Regions from separate parts of the Homo sapiens genome. Here region 2 is linked to region 1. Evidence: fine-mapped QTL for protein levels in blood plasma. A gene starts in region 1. The other region holds a variant in brackets. All regions are shown on one strand. Distances are from middle to middle.

Region 1 (8,343 bases):
GGCTCACTGCAACCTCCGCCTCATGGGTTCATGCCATTCTCCTGCCTCAGCCTCCCGAGTAGCTGGGACTACAGGCACCCGCCATCACGCTTAGCTAATTTTTTGTATTTTTAGTAGAGACGGGGTTTCACCGTGCCAGCCAGGATGGTCTTGATCTCCTGACCTTGTGATCCACCCACCTCGGCCTCCCAAAGTGCTGGGATTACAGGCATGAGCCACCACGCCCAGCCAGCAGTTTCTTTTGAAGTTAAACATACATACACCATATAATCCAGAAATTCTACTCCTACATATTTACTTAACAAAAATGAAAATATATATCCACACTAAGACTTGTACACAAGTATTATCAACAAATCCACTGAAAAGGATCTTCCTTAAAAAAGAGAATGATTTTATTCCTGTAAGCAGTTTGCAAACCAGGGAGACCCAGCCTTCAGTACAAAACAAAGATGCTCTCCCTGAGAACAGAGAGACAGGTTATCCTTTATAGAAAAAGCTCCCACCCAGATTCCCACTCTGGTCTGCTCTGCAAGTGAGAGGGATGCAAGTATGTTTGGTTTTGATTGGTCAATGCAAGTCACAAGTCTATTTGTTAGATCCAGAAGTCAAGATGAGACTTCCCAGCACCCATCAAATCAGGGAGCATAAATAGGAGCAGACAGCCATGAAAGTCCCCAAATCACGCGAGCCTGTGGTTTCTCAGAGAATGCAGAAGACGTTTGTGACCTGGCTCCATTCTGAATTTAGACCCAGTTAGCCACTCAGGATCCATTTGGAAGGATTGGCTCTTTCAGGTTCATGAAGTGTTCATGGCAGCTTTATTTACAGTAGCCAGAAACTGGGTTCTATCCCAGTTACCTTTAGTGACTTTCAGTCATACTCAGCTTCACTGAACAGTACCCCTGAACTGGCCCTTTAAGAAAAGGAAGGCGTCTTCTGCTCACGAGGTCGGAGGGAGTCCAGAAGGGCAGGGGGTGTCCACTGGAGCTGGGGGTGCTTTGTAGGAGGCAGATGCTGATGAGGAGAATGTAAGGCTTCAGAATATGTAGGAAAATGGGAGTTGTACCTCTTTGTAGTTTGTTGGATAGTGGCTTTGTATTAGTTTCTTGAGGCTGTGATAACAAAGTACCACAGACTTCAACAGCAGCAGTATGTCCTCGCACAGTTCTGGGGGCTGGAAGTCAGAGATCAAGGTATCAGCAGGGTTGGTTCCTTCTGAGGCTGTGAGGGACAGGTCTGTTCCCGGCCTCTTACCCTGGCTTGTAGATGGTCATCCTCATGTCCACACAGTGTTCTACCTATATGAGTGTCTGCCTCTTTATCTAAATCTCCCTTTTTATGGGGACATCAGTCATTCTGGGTTGGGGCCCACCCTAATGACCACATTTGAACTTGATTACCCCTGTAAAGACCCTATCTCCAGATAAGCTCATGTTTTGAGGTGCTGGGAGACAAGACATCAACATGGGAATTTAGGGGGATACAATCCAACCCATAACAGGCTTGAGCCTTTTTCTTTCTGTGATTATGTGGACCACAGTCCCAGATAGCAGCTACTGGTCCCAGATCATGTACAAGTGGTCCCAGCATTGTGAAGGACCTGAGGATGTCTGGGCTACCTTGGCTTTGAATAACCAGCCCAGGAGCTGTGTGAGAGCCTGTCCTGCCCCTTTAGAATACTGAAGTTTGAATTGGATCCCCTAGCTAAAATGTTGGCATTTTAATAGTTACAGAGAAAAGAAAGGAACCTTAGCTCTTCTGTTGAGGGTTTATTCTGCCTGATGCTTTCGAAATAAGTTTGTTATTTTGGCAACACTAATGAGGTAGGTGTTATCCCCTTCCTGCAGCTTAGGATTAAAAAGCTCAGTGGGACTAGGTAGCCTTCGTCCACACTGCCTAAGCTGTTATTCAAGTACAGGTAGTAAGAGGGATTTGAACATAGGCCTTTCTGACTCCAGCATCCGTGTTCTTTTCATAACCATGAGCTATTTCATTTTCTAAAAAGTGTTCAGTTGAAACAAATGCAGAAATTATTCCTCTCAATGTATGTAATAGATCTGTGTTTATCTGATCTAATCCAGGATATATCCTCTGAACAGAAAAGTTAGAAAAGACGGCATTAGAAAAGACATGCAGACAACTCAAAAAACTATGAAACTTTATGGGGAAAATGTGTTATCACCTGATCTATATCTTAAAATGGTGAGAATTCATGGCATCCACCTGTCAAGATAAAGGAGCAAAGGAACCACGCTCCAAGTTTTGGGAAGAAAATAGCACATGGTGGCGACTGGGGGTGACATGAGACCCCACTCCCCATCAGGAATCTCAGGCAGCCCCTCCCTTCTTGGATATGAACAACTGAAGTTTTCTCAATCATTTATTTTATTTTTTAACTGATTAATAATAATTATACATATCCCTGGGCACCTAGTGACATTTCTATACCTATAAGGTATAGTGATCAGATCAGGGTAACTGGCATGCCCGTCATCTCAAACACTGACCACTTCTTTTAAAGTGTAGCCTGGAGCTCCCCACTGTGGATCCAATGGCTGCCACAACCACTTTGCAGAACCAGGTCGCTGAAAGGCAGCTTGACAAAAAGACTAAGATGAGCCAAGTGTACTGCAACATGGCACAGGAACCATTGATCAAATGCTGTAACTTGGTGTCATGACAACGGACAATGATGTCGAGTGGAGTGCTGGATCTCTTATCACCACTGTATCACACTGATTTAATCACACTAATCTAAGCTTCTTGAAGGGGAAAGAGAAAAGCTTTGTAGTAGCTCCCCTTCCTGGTGCTGTTCAGAAACAACAATGGTGCAGGCCACACCTCACAACGAAGGGGGCTCGGCTGGCTGGGCACAGTGCTAAATGAGCCGCAGGTCAAGAGGTCACTCCTGCAGCCAGGCCGACCTTTAGCCACACTCTGGTCCAGGCGACAGATGGGGCCCTAGCCTCAGTCCCCTTTCATCTCACATATGGGGAGTTCTTGGCCACAAGAGGACCAATTCAAAATAATATCCAGTGACTTGGTGAATAAACTCTTCCACTGGAGATGGTATTGCATTGTTGGATGTATCTTGAACTACAAAGCTTGCTTGGGGAGATTTGTATAAATTGAAGATCATTTGATTGGTTTTCATTCAAGTCCCTGCTTTCAAGTGCCTCCTGTATGTTTTTCAGTGGAACACAAGAACCCGAATTCAGTCCTTCACCTATTTCTACTGGTGTTGAAATCTATAAAGACATAAAATCTACTTGCTTAGCCAATGAGCCTTACAGAGTGTCTAGTTGCTCTGATTTAATATATCAGTGTATCGGGAAACTTTAATCCTGAGTGCAGGCTGTTGGCATATGGATTCCATGCTGGTGGTAGGTTTGGACTACCTCAGAAAAGAAATGGGCACATGCCTTCTTGTAAATATTTTGTCTTTGTAAATATTTTCTTTGTATTCATGGGTTCAAGATGCCCAGGAAACGTATGTGAAGCCCAGATGTCACAGGAATTTTCCTGGTCTGCTTTAAGGAAGTCCTTAAGCATCACACCTGCCAGTTCAAATACTATTTGAGCCCTGTGCATTTTTGAGAAATGATGTATAAGTAGAAAAATTATACAAGAAACATGGAAAAATCAACAGGACTATTTAAATGTTATACAGAACTTATGAACAGTTCAAACTAAATATTTTGCTATTAAAATTATTCAAGAATCATAGAAATCTGGAAATAAACACTTCATAAATAACGTTTTCAAATATCGCGTCAGGAAAAATTAGACAAAACCAGTTAAGGAGGGAAGTTACATTGAAAAAGACTGAGTTCTACTATCCCCTAAGTTTTGCAAAAATATTTTTAACTTACTTTCTAAAAGTTAGTGAGTTTCCATTATAAAATAGAAAAATTGTCTTCATTCCATGAAAGAACTGTCTGAAAATCAGAAAAGCACCATATCCTGGATTTCAAGGAAGATGAAACTTCTTCTTATCTTCTATTTTACTAAATACTCAAAATAAAATAATCATATTGTATTGAATCTGACATTGTTAAGGAAAATAGCTTAAAATTTTTAAATAATGAGCAATATATTTAATTTTAAAATACGAAGAATTAGGCTAAGGTGGTAATTTTTTAGTGAGTTGAAAGTCCAAACTATGAGTTCGGAAGAAACAGCCCTAAAAGGCAAATAACATGGCTTTGGAATAATCACAGGGCAAATGCTTTGTTCTACATAATTCTTCTTTTGTGAATTTTAAAATGCTCAACAAGTATTAATGAAATATGTCTAAGAAGTAGATATTGCTTTAAAATCTAATTTCCAGAGTCCCGAACTAAGGCAAAGATTGAGATTAAGTCTCCGCCCAAAGTCTTAAGTGAGCCAGTGGAAGATGGCAGTTTATTCATGAATTGTTGGTTATCTGCTGCTTAACTACTTAACACAACCCGGTTTGATTGGTAATCAGATCCTAATAATGTATGTTTCAAAGAAAGGGCAGTTTCCTTAAAATCCTTAAAGACTTGTCACTTTGAAAACTGGAATCAAAATGTGAAAATGTTATCGGTCCATCTGGCAGTGTCCTTGGGTGTTTTTTAGAGTGGTCTCATAGTGCTATTTAACTATGCTGAATATTTGACACCCAGTCTCTGTAGGAAATTGTGATTTTTATCAGCGAAGAGGCAATTAAATGCTGTCATTTGGCACGTCCATCCATCAGGGATCTTATCACCCAAGAAGCATCCAGCAGCAGTTGCTGTCCTTTCCAGCTGGCAGACAGATAACAGAAACTGTCCTGTGTGAGGCACAATAGTCTAACATGATTAGAAATCAGCCAAACTCTGGCTTCTCTTGAGCTATACTCCCCCACAGGCTGAATTATAGCTCTCCTACCAGTCCCACGGCGCTGAATGATGTCATGGGATCTGCAGTTCAGCGAGATGAAAGGGATAAAGCAGAACCCGCTGGCACTAGGAAAAGCTTCCAACACACAGTCCACAACACAGCTTGGGAACCAAAAAAGCTACAGATCCAGCCACTCAGCCCAAGCATGGGAGAACTACCAGCATTGCCTCATTGCAAAAAAGAGGAGGAAAACAACGTGATCCATGTTTAACAAAAGAGTCTGTGGACTAGGAGGTGGGAGGGTAACTACCTGCTGAAAGTGAACTTTCTTTGATATCCATGCATATATATAAACTCAGCCCTGCCTTTGATGTTCAGCAACTGATTCACTGATCAGATTACAGGCATTTCATCTCCCTGCTCGTCTGCCTTTGATCTGCATGGTTAATTTTATTTTCCTGGATTTGAAGTTTCGTCTGGGCTTGTGCTGACATACATTTTTGGGAAGGTAGAAGCATTTGGCACAGAAGTGCTGCCAGGAGAAACTAAGTTGCTGAACGGGTAAGTACTGCAAAGAGCTCAGCATGTTGCAGGTACTCTGTTTTAAGCTTTGTTATAGCTTTCACTGCATTTTTCGCATGTGTTCTGAGAAAAGAATGGTTTTAATTAATTTTTTAGAAAGCATTTATACAGCTGAATACTACATGATGCTGAATGTGTGTATCAGAGTAACTATGGAACTTGATGTAATTTTTAGTAGTTTGTACAAGAGGGTTTGCAGTCTGTCATACAAATTTTACTTGGAAATGAGTTGTACAAACAGGACAAAACAGAACAGCGCTCACTTTAGCATGCAACTGGTACTTCAACCCCTGAGATCTGTGAGCTATAATTGCTCTAAGTATTTACAGGTTACCTTATTTAGTAAACAGTCAGTGCAACTTTGCTTGTTGAAAATGCTTTCTTTGTTTTCTTATATAAAAGAGTAAAATGTATCTCTGGCAATACTGTTTCTTTAGTTTATTTATTCTCTCACTTCCAAGATGTAAATCTATCAAATACACTTCCTTATGCAGTTTGTACACTCAAGGGAATCACTGAAAAACCATCAAGTATGATTAAAGACTTTTATGTGTAAAACTGAAGAATTTAAAAACAGTGAGGATAAAGTTGCACTAAGTTTGGCTAAAAATACTCCAGTGATTTTCTATAACCTTTGGAAATAGCATAAGCCTTATTTACAGAAACATTCACAAGGTTAATATTCCTAAATTAACATTTACTTTACATTTATAGTGACAGCTGTTTTAAGTCAAAATTTGCCAACTGTTTATGAAAACTATCTGAGTAATCAACAGTTATTATGTTACATAAAGTATCTTAGTCACATTTTCACTTTAGCTAATGCCCAACATGACAAAACCAAATTATATTGCTGTACCGAATTTGAAAGTTAACTGTTATTTTTTTGTCAGTTCATGATACACACACACTCACGCTCACACACACACACAGTAAAATCTTTACAGTGAAATATAAAAACTAAATACAATGGAAAAGTAACACTGTTACTTTGTTCGCGATGTTTTTTTTTTTAATGTTCTAGTCCTAAATTTATCTGGGCAAAATATTTAATTATTATCACAAGTCTATTTGATGCTAGCTGAACCATAAAGAAACCATAAGTGATAAGACCAGTTATCCTTTAGTCTGAAATTCTGATGAAACAGGAAAGGTCTAATGAGTCTCATTTCATAAGTAATTAATTTTTCACAGCCAATTAATTAAATTACTTTCTACACTTTCCTCTTGATACTAGAAGGGTAATTAGCATTGTTTATTTAATTTTAAAACTTTGCTAGTTGTTAAGTGGAGGTTATTTAAAGCCATGCTAAACTGATTATATTTTTAAAGTGTGTCATTAATAACTTAATCTTAAAGATTTAACTGCTGTTTTTAGTCATGCCAGGAGAGGCATTTGCTTTTTTTTTCTAAGAGTACAACAAATCATGTTCACAATATCCTGCAATATCGGTTTAGTTTGATTTTTTTTTAATTTGTTTGCTTAAAATCTTCCTTTTAATCACAAAAGTGGTATTAATGTTCACATTCAGATAAAGAAAATTAGCCTTTTAAAACAATGACTGGAGATGGTGCCTAAAGAAATAGTGTGTCTGAAACTTGCTCATTTAGTTCAGATTTGGATTTTAAAATTTTTAAAATGACTGTTTATCCTGCTACTAGGATCATTTTAACAAATACAGGCTCTCCTCAGCACAAAACAAAGGGGAGAATTAGCAATTATCTGATTAATTTAGGCTTTGTAGAAAACTAGCTTGGGCAAGTCAAGTCCTTGAAAATCCACTTCAGTGTTTGAATTAATTCAGTTAATTGTTTACTTCTAGTGTCATTGTTGAGAAATGAAATAGAGTGTATTTGATTTTAAAATAAAGATGGTTGTATCTGAAGGTACAGGTACAGTCTCAAAAGGCATTTCCTAATTAATTGCCACAAAATGACTTTGGCAGATATAGTCCTATTACTTCTACTGAACAAAACCCTTATGTGACATTTTTCAAAGCACTTTCCTATCTGTTGCTTCAATGGCAGCTTTGTTACTACAGAAAGTCCAAGTCTTCAAAAGACTTTTATGTTGAGTCCTGATACTGTCACCAATTAGCTATATGACCTCAAGAGAGTTTCCTCATGTGTGAAGTGAGGGAGTTGATCACATCATCTTTATGAAATAAGCAGAATTGGAATTTTTATGGCCATTTTACAGATGAGGAAACTGAGGCTATAGAAAACGAATGTCCCTATCTTAACAAGGTCACATGGCTGATTTTCCCAGTTCTAGTCCAATGTTCTTTCCAGTCTACCATGCAGGGTCTGCTTTCCAACAACTGCTTAAACAAATGCACTCTGTAGCTCATCAAAGAACAATATTAGTTTGAAAAATAAAGACAGCCACTTCCTATTGTAGTGCATTTTTTTTTTGTTTCCATGATAGATATGTCAGTCAGCTGGATTCGTCTGATTATTTTCCAACTGTTCCTTCTACTTCTGGACTTCTAAGCTGTCTAAACACAGTAGCTGCTACCCATAATTTAACATAATTTAACACGTAAAATAATTTTCACAAAAAGTTTAATGCATCAATGTGATGTGGAATTATATATGTATTTGTGTGTTTGCCTCTGTGTGTGTGTGTACATACGAGTTTGGCATTATATCAACACATATTTGTGTGTTTTGAAGGAATTGATATTTTCTTAGATGATGCCAGTGGCATCCAAAAACAGTTTAATAATTAAAGGTTAATTTTCCTCCAGGGAAATTCCCAGTGGGATTCTGTGAAACTTCAGTTGACAAACTCAATGTGCATTTCAAACATGATATGATATGTGTTTCATATCATGTTTGATTATGTTAAGACTCTTGAGCATGTTTTCATTATCTCTTTGCTTTTCTTCCTTGAAAAAATATATCTTG
Region 2 (8,343 bases), 41 kb after region 1:
TTCTGAGAACAGTATCTGATAACAGGTGCTGTATTTCATATTCCCATGGCTATCCAGAAGAAATATTTTTCTCTAGATAGCAGTTTTCCATAAGGATTGAAAGAGCTGTCCCCCTGTGAAGTAAGAGCCAAAGGGAAGCAACCAGAACATTTCTGCCTTTATGTACTTATTTCATTTGTTCATCTTCTGTTCCCATATTTATAATTTTTTTAAAAAAAAAGACCAGGACAAATTGAATGAGGAGCAATAAAAGTAAAGGTAATAATGCCAGTGAAAAATGAGATTCTTAGGACCCACTCAGGTGCACAGTTGTATACCATGTTACCACATGCCTGCCCTGAGCTGTCCACCTGGAAGCCCATGTTGTTCAGTCTTCTACCCTGTATCTACAGAGCACCCAGCTCCTGACACAGTACATGAGTGAACAAATCAGTTAATCTCAAATATTACTTGGAAAAAAAAGTGACACTTAAATCTGGTAATATAAAAATGAATGAATTTGTGTATATGTTATAAATCATATATTTTGCCAAGTCTTTTTTCTTAGTTTTAGCTCATAATAAATAAAATCAGCAACTTAACTTTGCTCATGCTCTAACATACAACAGAGAGGCAAAGGATTCAGATACACAAATGAAAACATAAATATATTTTTATTTTCCACCCCACTTAACTCAGAGAGCTTGAGCTTTTTATAAGCAGTTACTTTAATGTTAGATGTTTTTAAATTGTCCATTCATGAATTTGTGATTTCTTCTTTTCATTGTTCCTTTTGCAACAGCATATGTCTTTCAGAGGAAAGAAAAATAAGTTATGAGGATATTAAAGTCAGATAAATCACTGAAATTAAAATTACATTTAACTGGCTAATTTTCACTTCCAAGCTTTACAAATCAAGGGAAAATTTAGTCTTTTGACTAAGACTAAGCTTTAAATTTTTTTTCAGACAACTACGTTTATAAATAATCTTTTTTAAAGCTTGAGATATTAAATGTATAGTTTGGGCCAGGCACAGTGGCTCACATCTGTAATCCCAGCACTTTGGGAGGCCGAGGCAGGTGGATTGCCTGAGGTCAGGAGTTCCAGACTAGCCTGGCCAACATGGTGAAACCCCATCTGTACTAAAAATACAAAAATTAGCCAGGTGTGGTGGTGGGCGCCTTTAATCCCAGCTACTCAGGAGGCTGAGGCAGGAGAATCGCTTGAGTCTGGGAGGCAGAGTTGTGGTGAGCCGAGATTGCACCACCGCACTCAAGTCTGGGTGACAAAGTGAGAAATAAATAAATAGATAAATAGATAGACAGTTTGGAGGGATACCTTTTAATTTGTAATTAAACAAGTCTCAGGGCCCTTTTTGACTGAGGCTTAGAATTTTGGTTACCTATGGTATTTGAAATTTTGAAAGCAGAGTAAACATAAAACTTTTTAAAGTTAATTATGAAAAAGAAGAAAAGCTAGACCAAACTATTGATATATACAACAAAAGATTTTTTTATATTGTGGGTAAAAAGTACATTTTTTAGTAGGCCATTAGCATTTTCAAATAACTTTTATTGTAACATTGTTATGTTATTTGCTTCTCTGTATTAAAGGTATCTTAAAACTTCTGACATTTTCTGTCCTCCAGTCCATCTGTCTAAAATAACGCACTCTGGGTCATGAGGTTCTTTCAATTACAAACATGTACCTGTGCCTTAAAACTAAAGCCTGGAAGTGCTTTGGTTAAGCAGGTATAGTTAAACTTTCCTCTGCGGTTTTATTTCTCCTAATTATTATTTTCTTTGGAAGGCATTCAATTCTATTTTTTCCCAAGGTATCTGAGCATCTCTTCCATTGTTAGTTAGGTTTCTACCATAAAAATGTGTAGTCAGGGCTGGCTGGGGCTTCTGGAATCGTATTCCTGGATACAGTCTACACCTTGACCCACCAGTGGTGTGTGGTCAGTAGGTCCCAGCCTCTTTTCACTTCCTTTCAATTATTAGGTATTAAGAAGTCTGCACAGCAGCTCCAGGTCCACCGATACTGTTGCTGACTTAGATTGATGATACCCTTCTCTTCCTTGGCCACTTTTAAAAGATTCTTATTTTAACTGTTTACCTTGGATATCTTGGGCTATGTTCATGTAAACGACATCTGTTAACATAAATATGAGCTATCTCTTGTAATACATATTATGCAACTAAGATAATATTAGCTAATTTTTCATACAGTAAGCCAGGTACTATGTGATCTTTGTATATTAAATAATGGAATCCTTACAACATATGTTTTAAATAGGGAATATAACCATCCCCATCTTATGGACAGGGAAACTGGGACACAGTGGTTCACTGATTTGTCCATTGTCACTGCTAGTAAGTAACAGTGCGGGAGGAAGGAGTGGTGGAGCCACGTGGGAGTAGCAATCTCTTGCTCGTTTTGTAAATAGCCTAGTGCAATTCTCTCTGATAGAACTGTCTGTGATGGTGGAAGTGGTCTCTATCTGCTCTATCCAGTATACGAGCAACTAGCCACTGCGGTTACTGAACACTTACAGAATTTTATTTCATTTTAATTGATGAAAATTAAATGAGGCCACATGGGGTCTGGCTATTGTATTGGACAGTACAGCTCTAGAATGATTAACTTTCTTCCAGTAATTCTGGCATGGGACCAGCCTGTAAAACAAGGAGATACCAGAATCATATTGACCTAACGCACATGCACTGCGGGAGCTGCCTTGCTGGTCAGCCTTCTTCCTGTCCTTCTTCCTCTGAGCTACGCTCGACCTTGCCACCAGTTCCCGACCCATCTGTTTCCGGTCCTCCATGCTCCTCATGCCAGATGCTGTTGCCCTGGGCGTTCTGAGCAGGCGCCTCTCGCTAGTTCCTTTGCTTCCTTCCCTGTAAGCCCCAAGCAGCATCTCTTCCCATTCAGTTCTTTTTTAGAAATTTTGCTTAATACATAGTTATCTTTCCTGCATTTTTAGGAAAATATATGACAGGTCGCTGAGCCATGTGGAGTCTGAGGATTTTATCCCATTGAGCCATATTTACCCTATCTCTCCTCCACTACAGGATTTCGATTTTGAAAGTGTATGAGAAAGATAATTCAGAATATTTTTCCTATTTCAGAGTCAAAAAATACAAAAGCTTGTTCTGGGCGCCCCATAAGTAGTACCTGCTGGGCATTCTGAACCATAAATATGGTGAGGGTTACTCGGCCATCAGGCATCCTTTCAGCTCCCAAAAATAAACCTAACTTTGGGATATGTGGGAGAGGATGATTTTTGTTTTCCTGAAGTAACCACATTAGACTTTTAATTCTTACTGCCTAGAATTCGCCCAGCCCCAGCCCATCCTCCTCACTCGTATTAATGCCAACAGTGTGCTTGTAACACGATCGCCTCGCAGCAGTAAATCAGGAAACTAGTTTTTGCATGAACCACTTGAAACAGGCTTCAAGTCTCTGGCACAGTTTTCAAAGTAAACTTTTCTAACCAATTATTGGGAGGACTTTAGTTAATGTGAAAAAATTAACTCTTGTAAACAACAACATACTTTCCTCCGCACGGGGCATACCCAGCTTCATATTTCTGAAGATGTTTACATTTTTGAAAACTGTTTTTGTCTCTATGAGGAAAGTTTTAAAAAAATTAATTTGTAAGCATAAAAAATGAGATTCATTTCTGCCATTTAATGACAGTGTTGCTCACTTTATTTATGTTTAATTATAGCTGATCTAGCCTAGGGATGGTTGTAAGATATTAACGAGCCCTTGCTTGTCAGTTTTCTCTAAAAAACTCAAGCACAGCCTTTTAGAAACTGAAAGTTGAGGGGAAATATCTCTTCAATGTTGTTTCATTAAAGGAAGTTAAAAGTTGATTTCTAAGCACCAGCAACATAAATCTAATTTGTCATTTGCATTTGCATGCCCTAGATTCTCCCTTCAAATAACTTCTCCATCCACATTTAAAATTTAACATTTAACTTTGAAAGTTCAAAGGACTGCAGTTAATAACGCACTGGCTGTACAAATAAATAGTGCTTTCAACCCAAGGCCCAGAATGTGTTTCCTGGACAACAAGGGTCTGTGAGTTTTCCCCTGTGGTCTGAAGAGCTGCTCCTCCAACCTGTAGGTAGGACCCGCTTATGTTTTTGTTAAAGGCTGGATTTGCAGAAGGAGAAAAGAGAGAAGGGGATTTGGGGACTGTTTACTTTGAGTCATTTTGCTACTGGAAAACCACCAAATGTGGCTTAAAAATATTGGGCAGAGTGACAGAGCTACAGCTTGGGTGGAAGTAGCCCAGCTGAACCCAGCCCTCTGCTCCCTTGGGACCAAGATAAGGAAAGCTGCTGACCCCACTCCACCCAGACATCCCCAGCCCAGCCCACCCTGCCTGCCATCCTGCAGCCCAGGAGGACTATATGGCCTCACCACATGGGAGCCCTTGCTGGGGCCGTTACAAGCTATTGCTCCCTAGGATTTTTTTAAAGTATTTAGGAAATACTACCTTAAACAATATTTGTTCATCCGTTTGTTTATCAGCAGGCATTTATTTATTATTCACCGGCCTGTTAGATACCAGGCTTTTGGGAAGGAGAGGTGGAGGGAGGCATTGGATACCATGGGTTGTTCACTTCTCATATGATTTTAGGAAGTAAGTAGGGGCCCTATAATAATGCCTTTTTTTGCATTATTATTTTATCTATGCATATATTTTCCCATCTTAAAGTTTATTGATAAAAAATGTCTTCTCAAGGATTCGGGGAAGTACTGCGTACTTCCTTCAAGCTTTTAAGGTACCAGGTCATAATTTCAAGAATACAGACTACGGGGTATTTTAAAACAGAAATGCATTTCTACCATTGATATTAATGGCGGACCATGCTCCATAAACATAATCACATATCCCTTATCCTGAAGCCCAGGCTAAAGATGGACATACTCTGCCTATACCCTCCTTGCCCTCCCCTCACCAGACACACACACACATGT[G/GCA]CACACACACACACACACACACACACTCCTTCTCTTGCCATGATGGGAGGGACAACTCTAGTGCAACTTGGAAAGTGTCAAAGAAAACCCAGAACTGGACAGTGGAACAGCAGATTTTACTCAGGACTGTTGCAGTAGAGGAAATGAAAGCTCAGTGTAGAACTGGGCTCCACTCCAAATACAGCACAGGCAAGTGGGGATATATAGCCAAGGAGCAGGCTGGGTTTGGTGGATGGAAAATCATGAAGAGGAACCGTCAGAGGTGAGGGAGATTCTGGCTAAAATGACCTCACAGGATTCTTGCTGAAGACAGGCCAGGGTGACCAGGCATCACCTGGGAGATGGTGAGGGTTGAGGAACCTGAGAAGATACTGAGCATGGCCAGATTTAGCCAGGTTTTTGGGAAACTGGGCTCTTGAGGACAGGGCCCAACAGAGAGTGGCTCCTAAGAACCTATCTAGAGTTTGGTCAAGGAGAGAGTCCTTGTCAAAAGGCTAAACTCAAACATAGCTCATTTCATTATTTATTTGCTTACTTGTCTGCCTGCAGCAGGAAATAATATACCTAGGGAAATTACTTCTTTCTATCCCTATGGGGGAAAAAACAAAAAAGATTTGATACTATTTTCATTTGCTGCATGGTTAGGTCATCTGATCAATACAAATGCAGTGGGCCAAACCTAAATGGATACCCTCTCTGTGCCAGGACTTGGGGTGCAGTGGTGAGTAAGAACAGCTCCAGCTCTATCCATGCAAGGGAATACTCTCTATTTGCTGATATGGAGCACTGTCCAAGATGTATGGCATGGGAAAACAAATCTAGTTGCAGAACAGTGTTAAATACATGCACTCACGCTAGGAGGATATTTTTGGCAGGTCACCCCAATACCTGTGTTGGGGGAGTGGGAAGTTAAGGAGCAGGGATGGGAAGAAAGGTGTACTGTTTGATTATTTTTGTTAAATCTCATGTGTGTAATAGTTTTTCAGTATACGAATGATAAAAAGAAAAGAAATGATCTCGGCCAGGGTGGTGACACAAGTTTGTGAAGGCAGTGTCAATCTGTGCTAACCAATGTCACCATGGGTTGGAGGCTGTCGAGCTTCCCTTTCAGCTGTTTTCCCTCTTTCTTTTGTTCTTGGTAATTATTTATTGAACTTAATGGGGAAGATTTCAAGGCATTTTAACCACCCAGCTTTACTGAATGAAATGAAAACATCAAAGCAGACATTTATATTGGGGGTAATTTAGTATTTATATGTAGTTTACTTTATAGCCTGGATTATGAGTAATTACAGAGTCTGTGTTTAAGGTGCATTAGAAATATGACAGTCAACTCAAAAAGCAGTTGCTGTCATGGACACCATACTGTAATTTAATTTCTTGGAATCACCTTCTTTGAATTTCTAGTTATTTCATGGTTTCTAGTTAATTCAATGTGTAGAATGGTCACTTCATCAATTTCTTAGACTTTTATGAACTGCAGGCTATTTTTTAATAGTTTCAAATTAATATTAGGCTTTAAAAATATTACATTTTTGAAAATAGTAAATACTTTAGAGAAAATCTATTTTAAGTAAAATTTCCCAAATAAACAGTCTTTATGAAAGTTCCCATGAGTATTTGGGATATGATCAATGAATTTTATTATTTTGCCAAAAAATAACCACAAAGACCTCCACCACATTAAGTTGTATGTTCATTTTCAAAAGAGTTGTGACACTCAAAACTTTTAGTCCATTGGATTACTTGTACAGTTTCTCAGTGGAGGGAGGAGGTGACTTGGAGACAGTCAGCAGGACAGGGAGCCACAGTTGAATGACTGACTGGCAGGAACGCAGGGCTCTTATAGCACGGTGCAGCAGTTGACTCAGATAGGGTTGAATTAGAGTTTGTGTTCCACTAAACTTGTTTTAATTAAGAAAATTATGATTTCTTTTTGAAAGATTCTTAGTCAATAAAAATGTCTTAGATGGAAATTGGGGTCTGATGATCCCCTTATTTCCAGGGAAGCTTTATGATTCTTGAATCAGCAAAGTTGGTTTATTTATTGGATTGTAGAAAATCCAAAATCCTAACACTTATAGGTATAATTTGTTTAGGAAATGTGCACTCCGTGCTTGATTTAGAGTTGAGCACTTTATATGCATTCCCATTTATTCCTCACACAACCTTTAGGGCAGGTATTCTTATCCCCATCTCACAGATGAAGAGACTGAGGATCGGAGAATTCCCAAAATAACTTGGCCAACAAGTGGCAGAGCTGGCATTCAAACTCATGTCTCTTTAGATCCAATGTAGGAAAATACATACTTTTCTCCTATGTTGACCTGGCTTGAAACAGAATTTCCAAGGACATTTATTTCCAGTTAATGCACCTCTTTCTCTGCATTCTCCTTTCTCTTTCCCTTGTACTTCTCCTCCTTCTTCTTTTCCTTTGTTGTGTTTTAACTCGTACATGAGACTCTTACAACCTCAAGCTGCCTGGATCAAAGTGTGATTTTGAAATACTCTGCTCTTTCCTGAACCTTTGCTGTGGAGAACCCTAGCTTGGGAACAAGGTGGAGACCACCCCCAGAAGGTCACGTGCACCTGTGCCTTGATCCCAAGGGACTTTGGGAGTGGGAGGCTCTCTCCTATACTTCAGAAAGCCTGTGCCTGCACACAGCTCTCCCAGCAACCAAAGTGCTCAGCAAAAACACAGCTGTCCCAGCCCAGAGCCAGAGTCACAATGATCACCCCGCAAAGACCCAGCACATGTCCAGAGAAATTCTCCTTGAATATGCATCTTTATTGTTTTCCTATTACAAGAGTAATGGATGCTTTTTGCAAAAATTACATTTTGCAGAACTGTAAAACTTGAGACCACCCCGTAATTCTAATCTTCCCCTCCTCTGAAAGAGATAATCCCTGTTAACAATTTTAAAGAAATTCTAACTTGTTAATCAGTTCTTTAAATCAAGTGTTGTTTGTCTCCCCCCTCCTCTCTGTGCCTCTGATATAGAACATTGTGTGGCTGGAGCTCTCAGGAGTGAGGAGGAGGCTGACCTTCCACCCTTTTCTCCTCACTTCTTTGTTGTGCACACTCCCGATGTACGTTTGAAAGACAGGCAGAGTAATTGAAAGGAGGAAAGAAAGTATCACTCACCCAAAATGTGAATGAGTTAATTAGTAAAAATCTAGATGGAAGTGATTCCTCCGAATCCTTTGTTGAGTAGTTTATTAAGTACAGGCAGCACTATCCTTCAAGTTGGTTTTCATTTAATTTTTGGCCAATAAGTACTGCTTAGTTGATTTCGTATACAAATATGGATGAAGAAATTAAAATATGTAAATTTTACAGAAAAAATGGGAATGTTGAACTAGGTG

Evidence for each region. A credible set is the group of variants that fine-mapping cannot tell apart. PIP is the chance, under the fine-mapping model, that this variant and not a neighbour inherited with it causes the effect. Sun 2018 read protein levels with aptamers (SomaScan).
Region 2: its variant is the best candidate, but not a certain one, in a credible set for the plasma level of the TNFRSF19 protein (Sun 2018, PIP 0.87).

What each region holds. Positions count from the first base shown.
Region 1 is chr13:23,565,437-23,573,779 of GRCh38, forward strand. It overlaps TNFRSF19 (TNF receptor superfamily member 19), which reads left to right and starts at 4,976. Exons shown (of 10, transcript NM_148957.4): 1 at 4,976-5,412. RefSeq lists enhancers at 2,387-2,899, 2,900-3,411.
Region 2 is chr13:23,606,149-23,614,491 of GRCh38, forward strand. All of the region lies in intron 3 of TNFRSF19 (TNF receptor superfamily member 19), which reads left to right. Among named protein-coding and RNA genes, the nearest start is that of TNFRSF19, 40 kb to the left of the region's middle. The variant G/GCA (reference allele first, on the strand shown) is at 4,978.